4 linked regions of the Homo sapiens genome follow. The protein of the gene in region 2 purifies or fractionates together with the protein of the main gene of each other region. This does not show direct contact. Each region holds a gene or a part of one and is shown on either strand. Other genes may lie near its edges.

Region 1 (5,123 bases), on a different chromosome or scaffold from region 2:
TTCAGATCACTTGAGCACAGGAGTTTAAGACCACCTGGGCAACATGGCAAAACCTTGTGTCTACAAAAACTACAAAATTTAGCCAGATGGTGTGCCTGCTTGTGGTCCCAGCTACTCAGGAGGCTGGGATGGGAGAATCACTTGAGCCTGGGAGGTCGAGGCTGCAGTGAGCCATGATCATGCCACTGCACTCCAGCCTGGGCAACAGAGAATTGGTTATTGGAATTGTTAGGGGTGTATTTGTGGGTTTTATATTTTTTCTCTATCATGGAAATGTTTAGAATTATCTTTCTTTAACGTTTCTCCTTAATATGACAGACTAAAGTTTCACATCCCTCTTGTCCAAAGATGTACTTTCTTTGAGACTGCAGCCTGTGGAAATGCTTGCTTTTCAGTGTGTTCTTGACCTGCTTATGTAAATGCAGTTATGTACCTTTGCATCTATTATTTAGTAAGAAAGTTGCTGTAAGACATTTTCATGTTTTGCATGTTTTCATGTTTGGCATATTTCCATTTGCTTATGTTCATATTTTGCTTTTTTTTTTTAAACAGCACTTCACTACGCTTAGCAGATGTCCTCTGGAATTCCCAGATTCCTCTTTTGATCTGTAGGACATATGGACTAGTTGGTTATATGAGGATCATTATAAAAGAACATCCAGGTAAAATTGTTGAGCATATGGGCTTACTATTGGTTGCTTTAGCTATAATTTTAGAAACTTGACAATTTAGAAAGTCAGTTTTAAATTACAAAGTAAATTTGTAGCAGCACATCTCTAGTTGCAGATTCAAAGTGGCAATCAGATTCAATAGGCTGCAATCTACTCTTTATGTAGCATTATAGAAGGATACAAAGCATGATATACCACAGGCACAGCTTCTTCATCTTATTAGGAGATCCAGCAACTATGCAAGTACCCAGCTTCTTTTGCCCCCTAACCCACATTGGGCATGTATGGCTGTGGAGAGCTAAGGAATGTGGATCACTCTGACCCATGAAGTTACACCACCTTTCCCCACTCCAGTCTTTTTTTTGTTTTTTAAGACAGAGTTTCGCTCTTGTTGCCCAGGCTGGAGTACAATGGCACAATCTTGGCTCACTGCAACCTCCACCTCCCGGGTTCAACTGATTCTCCTGCCTCAGCCTCCCAAGTATCTGGGATTACAGGCACCCGCCACCATGCCCAGCTAATTTTTTTTTTTTTTTTTTTGAGACGGAGTCTCTCTCTTTTGCTCAGGCTGGACTGCAGTGGCGCGATCTTGGCTCACTGCTACCTCCACCTCCCGGGTTCACGCCATTCTCCTGCCTCAGCCTCCCGAGTAGCTGGGACTACAGGCGCCCGCCACCGTGCCCGGCTAATTTTTTGTATTTTTAGTAGAGATGGGGTTTCACCATGTTAGCCAGGATGGTCTCAATCTCCTGACCTCGTGATCTGCCCGCCTTGGCCTCCCAAAGTGCTGGGATTACAGGCGTGAGCCACCGCACCCGGCCGCCCAGCTAATTTTTTGCATTTTTAGTAGAGACAGGATTTCACCATGTTGGCCAGGCTGGTCTCGAACTCCTGACCTCAGGTGATCCACCCGCCTTGGCCTCCCAAGGTGCTGGGATTACAGGTGTGAGCCACTGCACCAGGTCCGTCCAATCTTTTATTTCATTCTCATGCAGGCTTTAGGTTCTCTCAATTCAGGTGCAATTTCACACAACAAAGACATTTACATAACTACTGTTCCCAAGGAAACTGTTGTAAGAGACCAAAGTCGTTTATAGGCAGACCTCCATCAGCTGAGGGTTTATATAAGCCCTTTACTTATAAAATTTTAATCTTAGATGATCATAAAATTTTCATCCAGTATTCAAAACAGTGCTCTTTATTGACTCAAGAAAACATTTTTACTATGAGCCAAGCACTCTGCTAATGTGGTGATAGCCATTGGCATTGGTAGCATCACTGAGGAGTAATATCTGTGTGGGCAGTTAGGGAGTGCTTGTCAGGATAAGCTCTGGCTGCTGGTGGTGAGCCATTTAAGAGTTGAAAGTGGTGTCAACTGATGGGAGGGAACAAAAGAGTTGAAAGTGGGAGAGTGACCATGTAAACATTTTATTTTAAATGGGTCACTTTGAAGTTGAGTGGAAAGTAAATGGATTTAAAGGGGCAAAGATTGGAGGCAGTGATTGCTGTTAGAAATTTCCAGTGGCCTAAGTAAGAGAGAGTGTGTTCTTTTTCCTAATTTAGGGAAGAGAAGAAGAGAGGGTAGATAATAATGAAGGTTCAGCATTACTAGTTGTGTGCCTGCCTTTATAAGAATTATTTCATTTACTCTTTCCAAAACCTTTATAAGGTACAGATTGAGTATCCTTAATCCAAAAATCCAAAATCAGAAATGCTCCAAAATGCAAAACTTTTTGAGAACTGACATAATATTCAAAGGAAACACTCATTGGAACATTTCTTACTTCAGATTTTTGGGTTAGAGAGCTCATCTAATATGTATTTGCAAATATACCAAAAACTCAACAAAATCCAAAACACTTATGGTCCCAAGCATTTTGGATAAGAGAGATATACAATCTGTAGATACTTTAATATCTGCTTTTTATAGATGATGCTGAGGCAATGAGAGATTAAATTATTTGCCTAAGGTCACATAGTTAGCAAGTGACAGAACTGGGCCTACCTCTAAGCACTCACTGAAATTATACACTCTCCTGTCCTCTCTCATGTGGAGAGCAGTGTACAGAGTGAGATTAGGAAGTGGGGAGTTACTGATGTTGGGGCCAAGGAAGCAAGAAGTGAAGGATGCCCATCAGGTTTCTGGAGAAGAAGTCTAGGTAGATGGTGATGCTGTCTATTGAAGACCACAAGAGGAGGAAGGATAGGTTGTTAGTTGCTATCTGTACCTAGGGTTTGTCAATGTTGAGCTTTTCCAGTTAGAACAAATTGTGTTCTAAAGGAATCTTGGTTTTACTTTTACTAAAACTTTATAGTTGACTTAAGATTTCTGCATTTTACTATATGTAAATCGTACCTTAATAAAACAGTGAAAAAACCTGTGGGCCCTGTGTCCATTTAAAAATTAAAGATTTCCTAAGTTTCTATAATTCAATGTATTGTCATCAGTATTGCCAAAGAATTAAGTTTATCTTTTGAGCTGGGCACGGTGGCTCACACCTGTAATGCAAGGACTTTGGGAGGCCGAGGCAGGAGGAGCCCTTGAATCCAGGAGTTTGAGACTAGCCTGGGTGACATAGTGAGACCCTATCCCTACAAAAAAATTAGCTGGGCACAGTGACACGAGACTGTAGTCCCACCTTCTCAGGAGGCTGAGGTGGGAGGATCCCTTCAGCCCAGGAGTTTCAGCAGTGAGCTGTGATTGTGCCACTGTACTTCAGCCTGGGTAATACAGCAAGACCCCATCTCTCTCTTTTTTTTTTTTAAGTGTTAAATTTATCCTTTTGAATTCTTTGTTTCACAGTAATAGAATCTCATCCAGATAATGCATTAGAGGATCTACGACTAGATAAGCCATTTCCTGAACTGAGAGAACATTTTCAGTCCTATGATTTGGATCATATGGAAAAAAAGGTTGGTAGTGTGTGTGACCTTACATTTACAGATAGACTTAAAACATTTTTTTAACCTAAGGTTTTTGAATTACACTAAAGTGAGAAAATCCTATAAACTTCCATATTCCTGTCATCCCGATTACCCAATAACAGTATTTTACCTTGTTTTCAACATATTAATTTTTCTCCAAAATTAAAAAACTTTTTTACTGAAGAAAAGTACATATACTGAACATCTGTGTAATCACTACCCAGGTCAAGAAATTGGACATTAACCTATTCCAGGTGGGGAGATGGGGATGGTTAATGGGTACCAAAAAAAAATTAGAAAGAATAAATAAGATTTACTCCTTGAAAGCACAACAAGGTGACTATAGTTAGTAATAACAACTCAGTTATACATTTTAAAATAATTAAAAGAGTTTAATTGGATTATTTGTAACATAAAGGATAAACGCTTGAGGGGATAAATGCTATACAGATACCCCATTCTCCATGATGTGCTTATTTCACATTGCATGCCTGTATCAAAGCATGTACCCCATAAATATATACACCTAAGTACCCACAAAAATTGAAAGTAAAAAATTTTAAAACAAAAAACAGAAATAAAAAAATTCCAAGAAGTTCTCTTTATGGACTTTTTCTAAACAAATAGAAATAATGACATAACACTATAAGGCGTATATGTATTTTTTCCCACTTCCATATTAATTAACATGCAGTTGCTTATTTGGTTCATCAGAAAACAGAAAAGATCCTCCTTTCTTACTTAGGATTGGTGTCTGAAATTGAGATTTGAGCTGTGTTTTTGGGTGGCAGTCTCTGAGACTGTTTTGCTGGTATAATGGGGACAATCATAGTATATATGTGACATACTAGGTATCTGCCTCTAGAAAAATTTGTAAAGCAGTTTTTATTAACTCAGTTCATTTTCGTCTATTCACTACTCTGCATATATTAGGAGATCATAAATATTGTTGAATTTGTTGAAAACGAGATGGTACAGTGAAGAATTCATAATACTGATATTTTCTTTTATTTGTCTCTCATTTTTAGGACCACAGTCATACTCCATGGATTGTGATCATAGCTAAATATTTAGCACAGTGGTATAGTGAAGTATGTCCTTTTTTAAAAAAAATTTCATATGCAACTGTATTTTCAGTTTCTTACAAAGGATTTCCTTGATGGGGAATGGGAGATTAATTTTTTTTCCTTATGGAGTTGTATGGTAGGGCAAATGGATGCTTTTAAATTTAAATCTAGCAGTTCCTCTTTTGATCCTGATAATTTTAATTAAAATGAAATTCAATAAATGTCATTATGAAACTGGCAGGGGGAATGAATGTAGATAAATGGTCACAGTGTCTGTTTTCTATCAAGTGAGCCTCTGATTTCACAGAGAAATATATTTGTTGATGAAATCTTATGTAGAGAATGGGGGACACTTTAGACTTTCAATTTCTGTATTTTGAATTTTAATAACTAGATTTTTAAAATTTTTAACCAATTTAGACAAATGGACGAATACCTAAAACGTATAAAGAAAAAGAGG
Region 2 (5,123 bases):
CGTTCTTTTTTTCTTTCTTTTTTTTTTTTTAGAGATAGGGCTCACTGTGTTGCCCGTGAGTGCAGTGGTACAGTCATAGCTCACTACAGCCTGCAACTTCTGGGTCCAAGTGTTCTTCCCACTTCAGTCTCCCAAGTAGCTAGGACTAAAAGCACACTATCACCATGCCTGGCTAATTAAAAAAAAAAAATTTCTTATAGAGACAGAGGTCTCACTATGTTACCAAGGCTGGTCTTGAACTCAGATTATCTTAGCCTCAAATTATCCTCTCACTCAGCCTTCCAAAGTGCTGAGATTACAGGTGTGAGCCACCATGCCCGGCATCCTATTGCTTTCGAAAGTTTTTTCTACAGGGCTTGATGCCGTGGCTCATGCCTGTGATGCTAGCACTTTGGGAGGCCGAGGGGGGCAGATTGTTTGGGCCAGGAGTTTGAGACCTGCCTGGCCAACATGGCGAAACCCTTTTCCTACAAAAAATACAAAAAAATTGCCAGGCATAGTGCCTGTATTCCCAGCTACTGGGGAGGCTGAGGTGGGAGAATCACCTGAGCCAGAGGAGGTTGAGGATGCAGTGAGCTGTGATCATGTCACTACATACCAGCCTGGGTGACAGAGTGAGACGCCCATTTCAAAAAAATAAATAAAATTATCTCCACAGAATCTTCTATTGAACTTACCTTTTATCGTCCTTTTCAATTTTTTTTTAAATTTAGCTACTATCATAGGAACCTTGTTATTCCCAATTAATTTATAAGTTTTGCCTTGCCAATGAGATTTTAAATTCTTTTTCTAAGGACATAATTGGGATGCAGTAAGAATTTTTAGTTGAACCATACGACTATGTGCTCATGACTGCATTTGTGAATGGGTGAACAGCTGAGTGTTTACTATGTGCATTTCTTTTTTTTTTTTTTTGAGACAGGGTCTTACTCTGTCACCCAGGCTGGAGAGCAGTTGGCATAATCATGGCTTACTGTAACCTCAAACTCTTATGTTCAAATGCTCCTCCTGCTTCAGCCTCCCAAGTAGTTGGAACTACAGGCACATGCCTGTATATACTATATCCAGCTAATTTTTTTATATTTTTTGTAGAGATGGGGAACTGCCGTGTTGTCCAGGCTGGTCTTGAACTCCTGGCTTCAAGTGGTCCTTCTGCTTTGGCCTCCTAAAGTGCTGGGATTGTAGGCGTGAGCCACCACACCCAGCCACTATGTACATTTCTGCTGTATATCTGAGGATGAGGTGATACATATGTACATAGTCACACAAATATATATGTAGTATATATGTAATATATTTGTGTGAATATGTATGCACATATGTGTATGTGTGTATATATGTGTATATATGTATATATATGCGTATGTAGTGAATGTCTGCTATTGTACTGAATACAGACAAATGAACAGCTTCAAACAGTTAAATGCCTTCCTAATGTGGAATTAGTATGTCCTGATTAGTCCCTTGAAATTATTATTAGGTTTTTTGTCCCTTTAAATTAAATAAATATTTTTGACCTCTGCTTTTTTGTTCTTTCTAAATATTCAGAGGACCTCTGTATTATTTTCTCCTTTGAGGTTCAGAATGTTGAAAATAGACCATCTAGTCTTCTTACTTCAATTTTCCCCTTCCTGTTCTGTATATCTTTCCTGCTGGGAGCATCACCATCATGCCTTACCCCCAGACCTTTACATTTAGAGGAGCTTGGTGGTTTCCCTGTTCTCTCAGATCTATTTTACTACTATACTGCACTACATTTTGTTTTTATCATTTTCCCTAATAAGCAATGTTATAGTAAAAATAATTTAAGTTCACTCTGGAGATTCACATGAGTACAAATGTGTTCCTTTAAAAAGGGTTTATGTATTTCTCAAGTTTGAGAAACTTTATAGTACTACATTTCATCAATTGTAAGGCATTTTTTTTTCCACATAACATTTCAGAATATAGGATACATCTTAAAGATGATGGTGTTATAGTTTTAAGTGGTGGTGTTTTTTCTTTCTTAGCAGTCTGTAAAATAATACTGATAGTGTCTTTAATTCAGTGCAATAATGACCAATCATATGACATAGCTGCGTAAGAACAGGAACTTTGTCTATAGCCAAATCATGAAATCTGTGTATCATTTTTACCCAAAACAATAATAAGGTATCTAGTTATCCATAGCAGTTTTCTGTAATCTATCATACATATTAAAAATATACAATTTCTCTCCTTGGTTACCTTAAGTTGAAAACAGTCCACAGTGATAATAAACATACTACAAAGAATAAACTGCTGAAGAAATGCCAAAACAAAATAAAGAAGGTTTTGCGTTTATAGTGTATGCTTTCTATGGGGGAATTGAATAAATGTTGTAACACAAAGTTCATGAATCTTCTTGCCTATCTTTAACTTTACATTATCTAATGGTGGTCTAATAGTTTGACCTATAATTTTTTTAAAAATGGTTTAATTTTCAGATCTTAACTGTTCAGGATCTTGTTGATTTTTCCCCTGTTTATCGATGTTTGCACATTTATTCTGTTTTGGTAAGTATGTTTTATATTTATGTATATATAGCTTTATATTATTTAAAAGGCATGTATGTATTTTAGGCCCTAAAAATTGATCATATGCTGTAAATCTTCACATAATTCTTTGTGAAATATCCACTCTGTGTAAGGCACTTACATTTTTTGTTTACTTATCATAGTGTAATTTCAAGTGATATACCATTTCATGTATATTTTAAGAACCTTGTAATAGTATACTTCCATTTCTCCCTATTGCCTTTGTGCTGTTGTTACATCACAGTTCTTATAAGTTACTTTTACATGTGTATTCCATACTACATTGCTCTTATTTTTGATTTAATGTTCCTTTTTAAAAATAACTGCTTTATTGAGATCTAGTTCACATACGAAAAAACTTACCCTTTTAGAGTATACAATTCGGTGGTTTTAGCATATTCACAAGGATGTGCAACCATTACCACTACCTAATTCCAGAAATACCCATTACCCACCCCTCCAACCACCCCCAAAACATCAAAAATGTGTATCTGGCTGTTATTAGGTGGTGTGTTCTATAGATATTTGTTAGATGTAGTTGGTTTATAGGGTTGTTCACGTCTTTTACTTCCTTGTTGGTCTTCTGCCTATTCTGTTATTGAAAGTAGAAGTATTGGAGTCTTCAACTATAACTGTTGAATTGTCCATTTTTTCTTTCAGTTTTGCCAGTTTTTTATTCATGTATTTTTAGGGCCTTGTTGGCAGGTGAATATATGTTTATAATTGTTATGTCTTCCTGATGGATTGACCTTTTTTAAAAAAATCATAAAATATCTTTCTTCATAATATTTTTTGTCTTAAGGTCTGTTTGGCTTTAATTAGTATAGCCACTCCAGCTTTCTTCTGAGCACTATTGGCATAGCATGTTTTTCCCCATCCTTTTACTTTCAGTCTCTTTGTATCTTTGAATCTAAAGTATGTCTCCAGTAGGTAACACATAGTTCAGTCTGTTTTTTTAAATCCAGTCTGCTGATCTCTGCCTTTCAATTGGAGTGTTTAGTTCATTTACATTTAATGTAATTACTGGTAAGGTAGGATTTATGTCTGCTCTGATGTTTGCCATTTGTTTTAACATGTCTTATATCTTTTTTGTTCCTCTATTCCTCCATTAGTACTGTCTTGTGCATTAAATAGATATTTTCTTATGTACCATTTCATTTCCTTTGTCATTTCCTTTTTTTTTTTTTTTTGTGCTGGAGTTTTGCTCTTGTTGCCCAGGATGGAGTGCAATGGCATGATCTCAGATCACTGCAACCTCCGCCTCCTGGGTTCAAGTGATTCTCCTGCCTCAGCCTCCCAAGTAGCTGGGTTTACAGGCACCCGCCACCATGGCCAGCTAATTTTTTGTATTTTTTTAGTAGAAATGGGGTTTCACCTTGTTGGCCAGGCTGATCTCGAACTCCTGACTTTAGGTGATCCACCCGTCTCGGCCTCCCAAAGTGCTGGGGTTACAGGTGTGAGCCACCTAGCCCAGCCTATTTTCTTAGTATTAGCCCTGAGGATTGCAATTAACATCTTACTTTAAAACAATTCAGTTAGATTAATACCCTTTTCTTTGTGCTATTGTTTTCTTTCTTTCTTTTTTTTTTTTTTTGAGATAGGGTCTTGCTCTGTCACCCAAGATGGAGTGCAGTGGCGTGATCACAGCTCACTGCAGCCTTGACCTCTTTGGGCTCAAGCGATTCTCCCACTTGAGCCTCCCAAGTACCTGGGACTACAGGCTCATGCCACCATGCTTGGCTAATTTTTGTATTTTTGGTAGAGGTAGAGTTTACAGTATAGTCTTACTGTTTTATGCTGTAAATTTAATAAACTTTCATTAGCACAATAACTTCTGGCTGGTATATATAACCAAAAATTATTTGGTAAAGCTAATTTCTTTCTTTTTTTTTGAGACAGAGTCTTGCTCTGTTGCCTAGGCTGGAATGCAGTGGTGCCATCTTGGCTCACTACAACCTGCGCCTCCTGGGTTCAAGCGATTCTACTACCTTAGCCTCCCAAGTAGCTGGGATTACAGGCGCCTGCCACCACGCCTGACTAATTTTTGTATTTTTAGTAGAGACGGGGTTTCTCCATGTTGGCTAGCCTGGTCTCGAACTCCTGACCTCAGGTGATCTGCCCACCTCAGCCTCCCAAAGTGCTGGGATTACAGGCATGAGCCACCGTGGCCGGCCACTAATTTCTTATTATTGTTACAACTCTTCTTCCTTCTACTTGTTATTCCAGTTCTGCCATTTCCCAGCATTATAGCATTGGGAAAATTACTTCCCTTATTTGAGTTCCTCATTTGCAAAATATGGTTAACAATTTCTAAGGCTATGTTGGATATTATAGTCAATATAAATAATAAAAGTGCTTGGTATAGGACCTGGTATAAAATATCAGGCAGTAAATGTTAAAGGGGTTATTATAAAAGGGTTACATTAATATGTATGCTTTCAAGGACTGTTGACTGTAAGTCTACTTTAGCCAAAAAAGCTCTTTGTCCGAAATCCTAAGGTATCCTACTCTATTTGATCAAATATGAGTATTCCATGAAAGGAAAATAGGTATAATGTCAAAAAAAGG
Region 3 (5,123 bases), on a different chromosome or scaffold from region 2:
GTCTACACCCTTCACCCAGACACCTGTCACCTTCACTAAGTGTGTCTCCTTTACCCAGGCATTAAAGGCATCTGTAGCAAGGTGGTAAATTCCTAAAAGGATTTCTGAGGGGGAGGGGGTGCTGTGACAGAGCGCAGGCTCAAGGAGGAGTCCCGAGGGAGGGATCCCATTTCACAGGTGGGCAAAGGGGCTGAGACTGGAGCACAGGCCCTGGCCCCATGGCTCAGGGTGGAGGAGGGAGAGGGCAGCTAGGGCTGTCCCCCGGCCACCCCACTCAGTGGGCGCATGGCAGCCTGGCAGGTGGGAGGGCTCTGAGGCACTGGCTTTCCTTGCCCCTGGCCCTCAGTTCCCTGAAGGGGCAGGCACTGTGATGACCCAAGCAGCAGGGCTGCATGGTAATGGGATGTCATGTCCTGGAGCTCCATACTCCACCGGCAGCCTGGTTCCCACTGTCATGTGCGCTGGGACCCTGCGACTGAGCAGGGTCCCTCCAGGAGCTGCGCCCATAGCCTCGCCCTGCCAGTGGCATCGCCCCAGCATTAGGGGTTCCCAGCACCTTCTGGGGCAAAGCCTGGGTGCCTCCAGAAACCCCCTGGAAAATGCAAACTCATGATGATTCTGTGGGTTGACAAATATTCTCGTTTCCCCACAAAAAGGCTTGGGGGAGGAGCTGACAAGGGGAGGGAATCAGGTGTCCGGTCCAGGCTCAGCAGCTGGGGTGGGGGGAGTGGGTGTGTGTGTGTGTGTGTGTGTGTGTGTGTGTGTGTGTGTGTGTGGCACATGAGGTGTGAGGAGGGGGCAGTGTGGGGAACATCTGAGGTGGGGAGGCAGTGCCTGGCGGCTTATCCGAGGCAGGTGAGTCCATGTGGAGGGCGTCCTGTCTGGGGGGTCTGTGCCAGCAGCTGGATGTGGGGATGCTGGGAATACCAGGGCCAGCCCCAGCTGGAGCAGCCATAGCTGCAGTCATCTCTGAAACACCCCTGAGACTGAGGAACGAGGCAGGCTGAGAGAACCTGAACATTTAATATGGTCAGCACCTTGTAAGGTGAAGGTGTGTTTTTTACACAAATTATAAATAATGAAAAATATGCATTTAGAAAAAGAAGCAGCAGTCCCCTTGGCGGGCCGGCTCGAGGACTCTTTGGTTGAGTGGCAGGTGAGGCCCTGGGTCCAGGGTCTGTCAGAGCCCCCCTAGGTCATCTGCCAGGAAGGCCAGCAGGTAGCGGCTGACATGTCTGTCGATGATGACAGGCGAGAAACCGAGGACGCGCCGGGTCCCTGGCAGGCCCTTGGGGTCTAGAAGACAAAAGGGGAGGCAAAAGCTCAAGAACCAGTCCCAGAGGTGAATTCTGTGTTTCCATCCCTCCTGCGGGGGTGGGTGGGAACAGGCACTGGGACAGGGTGCTCCCTCCCGGTCATGGTCTCGGCTTGAGTTGAAAAGACAAGAATTAGGGCAGATTCCAGAGCCCCCAGCTCCCACCCGAGTGACCCACGGGCCTTTGAGTCCTGCCATGTGTGCCTGTGTCCCCTCACCCAGTAAGCCTCCCAGCACGACAAACTCAGGCATCACAGAAAAGGGAGACGGGGCAGGCCAGGCTGGGTGCCAGTAGAGGGGCCCTGGAAGGTTCCTGTGCATCAGGCCTGTGGCTGCTGGAGAGACCCAAGGCCCTGGGGCACGTGACCTGCTCAAGGGCCCCACATGGTTCAAGGTCACAGATGTGGCAGGGCTTTGTAACACCCAGAGTCCTGGCTGCACCCCTCCTCCCGCTAGAGGTCATCATTCTCTGGTTCCCAAGGGTGGCAGGGGCCAGTGGACGCTGGGAGCCTCCTCACATCCCCTTTCTCAGGAGCCCTGCGAGGTGACACCATCCCACTGCACAAGTGTGGACACCGAGGTACGAAGAGGCCAAGGGGTCCCAAATTGGGCAGGGTCTGGGGCCCTGGCTTGGTGGCAGAGGGGAGGCAGGCCCAGCCCCATGAGGATCCGCTTGCACCCACCTGGCGGATAGCAGTACAGGAGCAGGGCCAGTCCCACAGCAAGGCCCAGGCCAGCCAGGAAGCTCATGGGTCCTGGGGAGAAACCAGCGTGAACAGGGCTCCCCTGGGCCTCAGAGGGGTGGGGTCCTGAGGCCTGGGGGCTGCGCAGGGGAGTGGGGGTGCCAGGCTGAGGTGCTGCCTGAAGAGCCCCCAAACGAGCACCTTAGGGGGGGGGTCTGTCACCAACAGAAGGCCAGGAATGGAGCCAGACTTGGGGTGGAGAAGCCCCTGAGGCGGAGATGGAGCCCTGGGGAGGGTAAAGAGAGAGGGAGAGAGAGGGAGAGAGAGGGAGGGGCAGCAGGGAGGTGTTACCCCTGTTACTCAGCTCGCCGCTCTGGCTGCCCGAGTCTAGCTCTGTGCAATCTGAGTTCTCTGGAAACAAAACCACAGAGCATAGTTAGTCAACGGGCAGGGCCGGAGGGCAAGGTAGTCACCCCGCAGGAAGCCCAAGGTTGCTGCTGCCTCCTGGGGCCGCCAGGCCGAACCAGGCTGTGGCACCTGAGGCTAGCCCTCCTCAGGGAACTATGCACAGTCTGGGTCTTCTCCTCTGCTCCAACTCCTGGACGGGCCTAAAGGCACCCGGGAGCCACAGAAGGTGCTCTACCTCCAGTGGGGCCAAGGCTTGGCCCTGCCTGGTTTTGAAAGCCCCCTGTGGCATACTCGTGGCTGGGGAGGGAGAGCCAGTCCCACCTGCAGGGCTGGGCCTCCCCTCGAGCTCTCCCCGCCCACCGTCTGCACTGTGTTCTGTGAGGCGTGGGGAGGCCTCCAGGGGGTCAGAGACCACAGCCCAGTAGCCTGGGACAAGCCGCCCAGTCCCTCTGGTCTCTGTCCTGTTGTCTAAGGGCCAAGGGGCAGTAGCCCCTCCTCCAGGGGCCCTGAGCACAGAGGCGTCAGATCAGAGTTGCCATCTTCAACTTGATATGCCCCCCACATCCCAGCAGCTCTGTGGGCCCAGGCTACTGGCATCCACATGACTCCCAGGGCCTGAGTCCACACTGCCTGAGGACAGGAGCCTCAAAACTGAAATGCACGTGCTTCGGACCAGCCATCCGTGCCTGACAATGTCCTATGGAAACACCCACACGTGTGCAGATCGCTGCAATGAAAGGGTCCGTCATGGGGTTGGGTAATTCCAGCTGGGACCGCCTAGGAGCGCCATGCAGCTGTGGGAACAAGGTTGCTGTCCACACAGACATGAAGGGATCCCCGTGGAATGAGGTTAGAAAAGGAAGGGCAAGAGTGGACGTATAAGATGCCCCATGCTGTGTGAAAACTGCCATGAGAGAGAGACGGAGGAAGGGGGAGAAAGTGGGAGACAGAGACCAACATCTGCACTGCCTGTGCCTGCCACACTCTCCCCTCGGGGCCAGAGGGTGGCCTCTGGGGAGGGGCTGAGGCGAGAGGGGATGCCAGGCCTGGGCTGCAGCAGACTTGGGTGGTCATGGAGGACATCCATGCCATCAACGGCAGGCTGGGGTGCCCTCCCCGGGCCAGCACCAAGCATGCATGGTTGGTGATGTGGAACTTACGCAGAGCGTGGCGGCTGGGCAGGCGGCTGTGCAGGGGCTGGGCATGGATATACAGGGCTCGGTAGAACTCCTGGCAGTCCCGCTCACCGCTCCGCTGCAGGTGGCTCAGGAGGTCACAGAGCCGCACACGCAAGGATGCCTTGGGGTTCCGGAACTGAGGGTACAAGGGGGTGCCAGGGAAGATCAGGCCAGGGGGGCTGGCTGTGGGTCAGGGCAGGGCACCAAGGTCAGGCCCCCAGCCTCAGCTTCCCTGTTGGGTGTCAGGACACCTGCTGGATGGCAGCTCCTGTGACAACCTGCCCCTTACCCACACCACATAGTGCCTGGCATTGCCTCTGTCACAGGCATCACTGCTACTCCTCATACTCCCTGTGGGGTGGGAGGTTGGGAAACAGGCTGGGAGTGGTCACAAAGAAAGCATGGGGCTGGCAAGGTGCGGTGGCTCATGCCTGTAATCCCAGCACTTTGGGAGGCTGAGGCAGGCAGATCACGAGGTCAGGAGATCGAGACCATCCTGGCTAATACGGTGAAACCCCCGACTCTATTAAAAATACAAAAAACTTAGCCGGGTGTGGTGGTGGGCACCTGTAGTCCCAGCTACTCGGGAGGCTGAGGCAGGAGAATGGTGTGAACCCGGGAGGCGGAGCTTGCAGTGAGCTAAGATCGTGCCACTGCACTCCAGCCTGGGCGACAGAGCAAGACTCCATCTCGAAAAAAAGAAAGCACAGGGCTGGTGACATCATTCCAAGTGTTGGGACATAGTGTGGCTTCCTGTGTGACCTTAGCCAGCTACTCCACCCCTCAGAGACTTGGTTTCTTCATTTGTAAAAAAGGGATAATGAACCCTCATGGTAGGCTGTGACAGGGAATTAATGAAGTGATGGTATAAGTGCTAACTTCTGTTATTTTTCAGTCTACAGAATGTGATTCAAGTTTTAAAAAAGTAAGTTGAAGCCAGGCACAATGGCTCATGCCTATAATCCCAGCACTTTGGGAGGCTGAGGCAGGCGGATCAGGAGTTCCAGGTCAGGAGTTTGACACCAGCCTGGCCAACACGGTGAAACCCCATCTCTACTAAAAGTACAAAAAATTGACTGGGCATGATGGTGCATGTTTAATCCCAGCTTCTTGGGAGGCTGAGGCCAGAGGATTGCTTGAAACTGGGAGGCAGAGGTTGCACTGAGCCGAGATCATGCCACTGCACTCCAGCCTGGGCGACAGAGACTCCATCTCAAAGAAAAAAAAAAAAAGACAGAAGTATTGGCTCTTTTGATGTGTATGACAGAGAAATGTGTGGTTCTCAAGGTCAGTGGACAGGCCACTGGGCCTTGACCTCCAGGACCTGGAGTCTGTGGCCTGGTGCTGCCACCTGGTGGCAGCATATCATTCTACATGGCCACAGGGAACTGGAGTTAAACCATGGCAGTGTGAAAATGGCAGGCAGATGGGTGGCAGGAGCTGTGGTGTCTGTGAGGAAGGAATATGTGCTTTTTCTTGTATAAACGTCTTAAACTTTCTAAACTTTTTAAAAGTGAACATGCATTAGACTTCAATTGC
Region 4 (5,123 bases), on a different chromosome or scaffold from region 2:
CAACTGATTATTTGAACCCATAAAAACTCCACCAGGGAATCTTATTTTGTGGGCACAATGCACAGAGCCTGGAACATGGTGGGTGCTCAATGTTGGAGGAATCAAATTCCAACTTTAAAATGAGTACAAGGACCTACTTTAGATCAAATATTAAATCTGGCTAATAATTTCGGGCCACACTCCGCTTCTGTGTCTCAAAGCAGGTGGGGCAGAAAAAAGTAGCCGAGTCTCAAATTTGCTGCTATTCTCTTTATAAGCAGTTTACAACTACTTGGCATCTCTAGCTCAGAAGCACAAAATGTATATACAAAGAAATGATTAGAATTTATCTTAACTGAAAGCACTAGTTTAAACAGCCTAGAGTCTTGTAGAAATTGTTATTCCAAAACATGCAGAGGCAGCAAGAGTTGCCCAAAACCACATTTTATTCTATAACCTTTATATTGCTTTTCTGTTAAAGATTGAAGCAATGTGAAGTGGATGGAAATATTTTGTTAAAAGAACAAAATGAATTAATCACAGCATAGATGACTAATAAAAACCTTGGGTTTATGCCATACACTTCAAACACAAGGCAAAGTCCAGTAGTGGCTCATGTTCTGGGTTTTTAGAAAGCAAATGAAAATATTTGGAAAGATCAATATATTTCAACAGAAGAGCCATAAATGCCCTGAAAGCAGAAAGTTGACACAATTTTAAATAGAATTCATATATATATATTTTAAAATCAAACACAATTAAATATAATATGGTTTAAGTACATGAATACTTCAGCTTTAAAAGAATAACAGAGGTGGTACATAGTACCAAAAACTTACACAAAGCCTTTTTGCTTCTTCTGTCGATGAAACAGTGTGCCTCTATACAATCAAATATTGCAATGGAATAAATTCTCTGTTCATTCAAGACTTTCTCAAGGACAAAAGTGATTAATAATTATATATTTATACATATATATATATATTTTTTTTTTTGCAAAGTCTGAGCAAAAGCAGTAACATCTAAGAGAACTTTCTTTCCTCTCAATCATGTGCATTGAGGAAGCGCTGGCGCCACGTGGTCAATGGAGTGTGCTCACCAACTGGGCAGTCCTGCTGATGGCTGTGTGATCCCGATGCAGAAGCCAACTGAGCAGAAGTGCAGTGAGTGAGTCTCTTACTATCCTAAAGAAAGGAGAAGAAAGACGACCAACTGCACACTTTCCAGCTCACAGCAAAGAATGGGGGAGGCAGTCAAAGTCAAATGTTTCTCTCTCCCCAGTCATCCTGCTCACCTTATTTAAAAAAAAAAAAAGTATAATTTGGGAAGAACTGCTTTGTTCAAGGTGCCACAGGGGCAAAAGTGGAGTCATCGCTATTTCTTTCTTTCTTTCCACATGTATTCTGAAGGGAAAGTTAAGTAACTGGAGTGCAGAATTCCAAAGGGGCAAATCCTAATGCTCAAAGTAAACCAGATTCACACCCTTCTGTTAGCAGGGGAGAGAATGGTTTTAAGTATAGTGCATCTCAGGAGGAGGAATTAAAATGTGAAAACTATATACTGCCATCAGAGGAAGGAGGAAGTCACTGAAACTTGACCCATGACTTGTCAGTTTCCTTCCAAATTAATGCCGCTGTCAAGAAGACTGCATAATTAACTCTCACCCTGTTCCGCTGAAGCTGCTAGCACCACGCTGCCACTCAAAGCTGCCTGGCTCTCGGTGGGGCTGACTCACCTGCTTTGGAAGGACAAAGCAAACCACCTCTGGCACCTGCTTTACAATGCTGATTAGGGATGAGTTACCACTACGAGTGTGCATCAAGTATCAGTTCTATGCTTATCTGCTTCCCAGAGGATGTGGTCCCTGTCTATTCCAGTAGGCTAAAACACTCTCATAAATGGGTTATTGCCATTGGAAAACTAATAATTTTCTAGTAATGTAAACAATACCATTTTGTATCTTTAAGACTCTCACTGTGTGAACATCATGTGCATCAATTATGCCTACAGGTAACTGCATTATGGTGGAAGTCTAGGATTGTCTCCCATTCTCTCCTGGAAACAACAGTGACAGATCAGAAATATAGTGCTGTTTTCATTGGCTGTGTTGAAGAATCCAACCAAGGGAAAAAAGTTCTCTTATTTTTCACAAGCAGATTTCCTTTATCTCAAGTTTTGAGTCATAACTGAAAAAAGAAAAGAAAAGAAAATGGTAAGGTGCATTTCTCTAACAAGTGACCTATTATTACAAATTAAGGATGGACACCAACACTTAGTGTTTACTATATACCAGAGTTTAAGACAGCCAGAAGCTGACTACAATTTTGTGAGGTAAAATATTGTAATTTTCCTTGTTAAAATATGAGTGAACAGAAGCTTAAAGAGGTTACGTAACTTACCCAAGGGGCATATAACAAGGACTGGCATCCAGACTTGCTTTCCCATGTTGGCAATAGATATTAGAATGAAAAATATTGCCAATTTTCAATAGAGTAATTCTACTTCTAGGAATTAACCCTAGAGCATATTCAAGAGGGATGGTAAAGACACACATGCAGACATTCACTGACTCCCTCCTGTAGTCACAGCACTGCGGACAAATATCACGGAAGACAAGGTCCCCGGTATTGTGGCATGGGACATGTGCACATGAAGCAATTCAGTAATGGTGTGAGGTAGTTTATGCTGAATGTCCAAGTACATCCTATAGGCAAATGTCGAGTTGGAGGTTGAAGCAGAGAGGTATCAACACAGGATAAAGAGAATGAGTATTCCTTCGCAGGCCTAGGACTTCATGCATTCATAAAATCATGGAATGAGGATTAGAAGGGGTTTTTCTTTTGGGGTTTTGGTGTCGAATTTCTCTGATCTACTAATGAGGACATGAGGAACTAAAGTAGTCACCTGCAAAAGGTCACACTTACTGCCTAAAGTAAAGAAAAACTCAGCTAGTTCTTCGAGTCTACTGTTTTTTTTTGTTTTTTTTTTGAGACGGAGTTTCACTCTTGTGGCCCAAGCTGGAGTGCACTGGTGCAATCTCAGCTCACCGCAACCTCTGCCTCCCGGGTTCAAGCAATTCTCCTGCCTCAGCCTCCCAAGTAGCTGGGATTACAGGCAATGCGCCACCACGCCCAGCTAATTTTGTATTTTTAGTAGAGATGAGGTTTCTCCATGTTGGTCAGGCTGGCCTTGAACTACCGATCTCAGGTGATCTGCCTGCCTCAGCCCCCACAAAGTGCTGGGATTATAGACGTGAGCTACCACGCCCGGCCCCCATTTCTGGTATTTTTTATTTTAAGAAATTCCATTTGGTTCTTTTAAAACTATTTTGCATTTTTCTCATTATACTCTTGTTTTCTTTAACTTTTTTTTTTTTTTTTTTGAGACAGAGTCTCACTCTGTTGTCCAGGCTGGAGTACAAGTGGCACAATCTCGGCTTACTGCAACCTCAACCTCCACCTCCCGGGTTCAAGTGATTCTTGTGCCTCAGCCTCCCATATAGCTGGGACTATAGGCACCTGCCACCATGCCCAGCTAATTTTTTTGTATTTTTAGTAGAGAAGGGGTTTCACCATATTGGCCAAGCTGGTCTTGAACTCCTACCCACCTTGGCCTCCCAAAGTGCTGGGATTACAGGCATGAGCCACTGCACCTGGCCACTTGAACATATTTTTAATATTTAAAATAGCCACTTGATGGTCTTTGTCTGCTAAATTCATCATCTTTCTCACATCTGGGTCTGTTTCTATAGATTGAGTTTTCTCCTGGTTATAGGTCAACTTCATGTCATGCTTGGTAATTTGTGATTGACGTCAGACATTCTTTTTTTTTTTTGAGCCTGAGTTTTGCTCTTTTTGCCCAGACCAGAGTGCAGTGGTGCGATCTCGGCTCACTGCAACCTTCACCTCCTGGGTTCAGGCAATTCTCCTGCCTCAGCCTCCCAAGTAGCCGGGATCACAGGTGCCGGCCACCATGCCTGGCTAAGTTTTTGTATTTTTAATAGAGACGGGGTTGCACCATGTTAGCCAGGCTGGTCTTGAACTCCTGACCTCAGGTCATCTACCTGCCTCGGCCTCCCAAAGTGCTGGGATTACAGGCATGAGCCACTGCGCCCAGCCTGGACGTCAGACATTCTAACTTTACACTGTGAAGTGCTGAATTTTGTTGTGTTACTGTAAAGAGGGTTAGGCCTTTGTTTTGGCATGCAGTTGTTAGGTAATTTGACCCTTTAAAAATTTGCTTTGAAACTTGGTTCAGGTGCTTGTACTCTAGGACTAATTTATCTTCAGTAGTAAGGCATAACCTCTGTGAAGACACTACCCAATGCCTTGTGTATTACTAAGTCTCTCTACTCTGGCCAGATCCTTCTGGCCATGAACTTTTCTTAGCCCTATGTTCCAGCAATCATTCAGCCTACTAATTTCTGGGGGGTTCTCTACCTGGACACATGCGTTTTCACCCCACACATATACAGATCACTCCTAGGCCAAGGATCCATGGGAATCTCTCTAAATATCTCTACGGCTTTCTTTCTGGGCAGCTTCCTCTTTTCTGCTACCTTATCCTACAACTTCTACTCAAATTGAGCTCTCTGAACTTTGATTTTTTTTTTGAAATGGGGTTTCGCTCGTCGCCCAGGCTGGAGTGCAGTGGTGTGATCTCGGCTCACTGCAACCTCCGCCTCCCTGGTTCAAGCGATTCTCCTGCCTCAGCCTCCCAAATAGTTGGGATTACAGGTGCCTGCCACCACACCCGGCTAAGACAGGGTTTCACCATGTTGGCCAGGCTGGTCTTGAACTCCTGACCTCAAGTGATTCACCCGCCTTGGCCTCCCAAAGTGCTGGGATTACAGGCGTGAGCCACTGCACCTGGCCTGAACTTTGATATTTAACTCTTTCGTTCAGCAAGACTACTGGGCTCTGTTTGGTTTCCATGGTTTCCCTGTATTGCCCATTGTCCAATATATGCAAACAGTTGTTTCATTTAGTTTGTCAATTTTCTAGTTGCTTATGATAAGAAGGTAATCCCCACAGCAGTTAATCCTTCAAAGGCAAAGAAACCCCTTATGTTCTTTTTTATTTTTACACCTGGAAAATAATACTTTTTAGTTTACACAAAACGAAGTCATCCTTACCTTTGTAGAT

The links.
Region 1: the proteins of EXOC6 (region 2) and NAE1 fractionate together in Homo sapiens (co-fractionation; one large-scale study listed by BioGRID). This does not show direct contact.
Region 3: the proteins of EXOC6 (region 2) and CARD19 purify together in Homo sapiens (affinity purification with mass spectrometry; 2 studies listed by BioGRID and IntAct, with this or other methods). This does not show direct contact.
Region 4: the proteins of EXOC6 (region 2) and AKAP10 purify together in Homo sapiens (tandem affinity purification; one large-scale study listed by IntAct). This does not show direct contact.

What each region holds. Positions count from the first base shown.
Region 1 is NC_000016.10:66,816,989-66,822,111, reverse strand, and holds part of NAE1 (NEDD8-activating enzyme E1 regulatory subunit), read left to right. Parts: intron 1-552; coding exon 553-662; intron 663-3,474; coding exon 3,475-3,584; intron 3,585-4,624; coding exon 4,625-4,687; intron 4,688-5,083; coding exon 5,084-5,123. UniProt on the Homo sapiens protein: Regulatory subunit of the dimeric UBA3-NAE1 E1 enzyme. E1 activates NEDD8 by first adenylating its C-terminal glycine residue with ATP, thereafter linking this residue to the side chain of the catalytic cysteine, yielding a NEDD8-UBA3 thioester and free AMP.
Region 2 is NC_000010.11:92,917,517-92,922,639, forward strand, and holds part of EXOC6 (exocyst complex component 6), read left to right. Parts: intron 1-2,465; coding exon 2,466-2,534; intron 2,535-5,123. UniProt on the Homo sapiens protein: Component of the exocyst complex involved in the docking of exocytic vesicles with fusion sites on the plasma membrane.
Region 3 is NC_000009.12:93,109,165-93,114,287, reverse strand, and holds the end of CARD19 (caspase recruitment domain-containing protein 19), read right to left. Parts: intron 3,721-5,123; coding exon 3,567-3,720; exon of another isoform or gene 2,410-3,566; coding exon 2,350-2,409; exon of another isoform or gene 2,071-2,349; coding exon 1,999-2,070; intron 1,297-1,998; coding exon 1,181-1,296; 3' UTR 1,005-1,180; downstream 1-1,004. UniProt on the Homo sapiens protein: Plays a role in inhibiting the effects of BCL10-induced activation of NF-kappa-B. May inhibit the phosphorylation of BCL10 in a CARD-dependent manner.
Region 4 is NC_000017.11:19,904,068-19,909,190, forward strand, and holds the end of AKAP10 (A-kinase anchor protein 10, mitochondrial isoform 1 precursor), read right to left. Parts: coding exon 5,114-5,123; intron 2,166-5,113; coding exon 2,160-2,165; 3' UTR 235-2,159; downstream 1-234. UniProt on the Homo sapiens protein: Differentially targeted protein that binds to type I and II regulatory subunits of protein kinase A and anchors them to the mitochondria or the plasma membrane.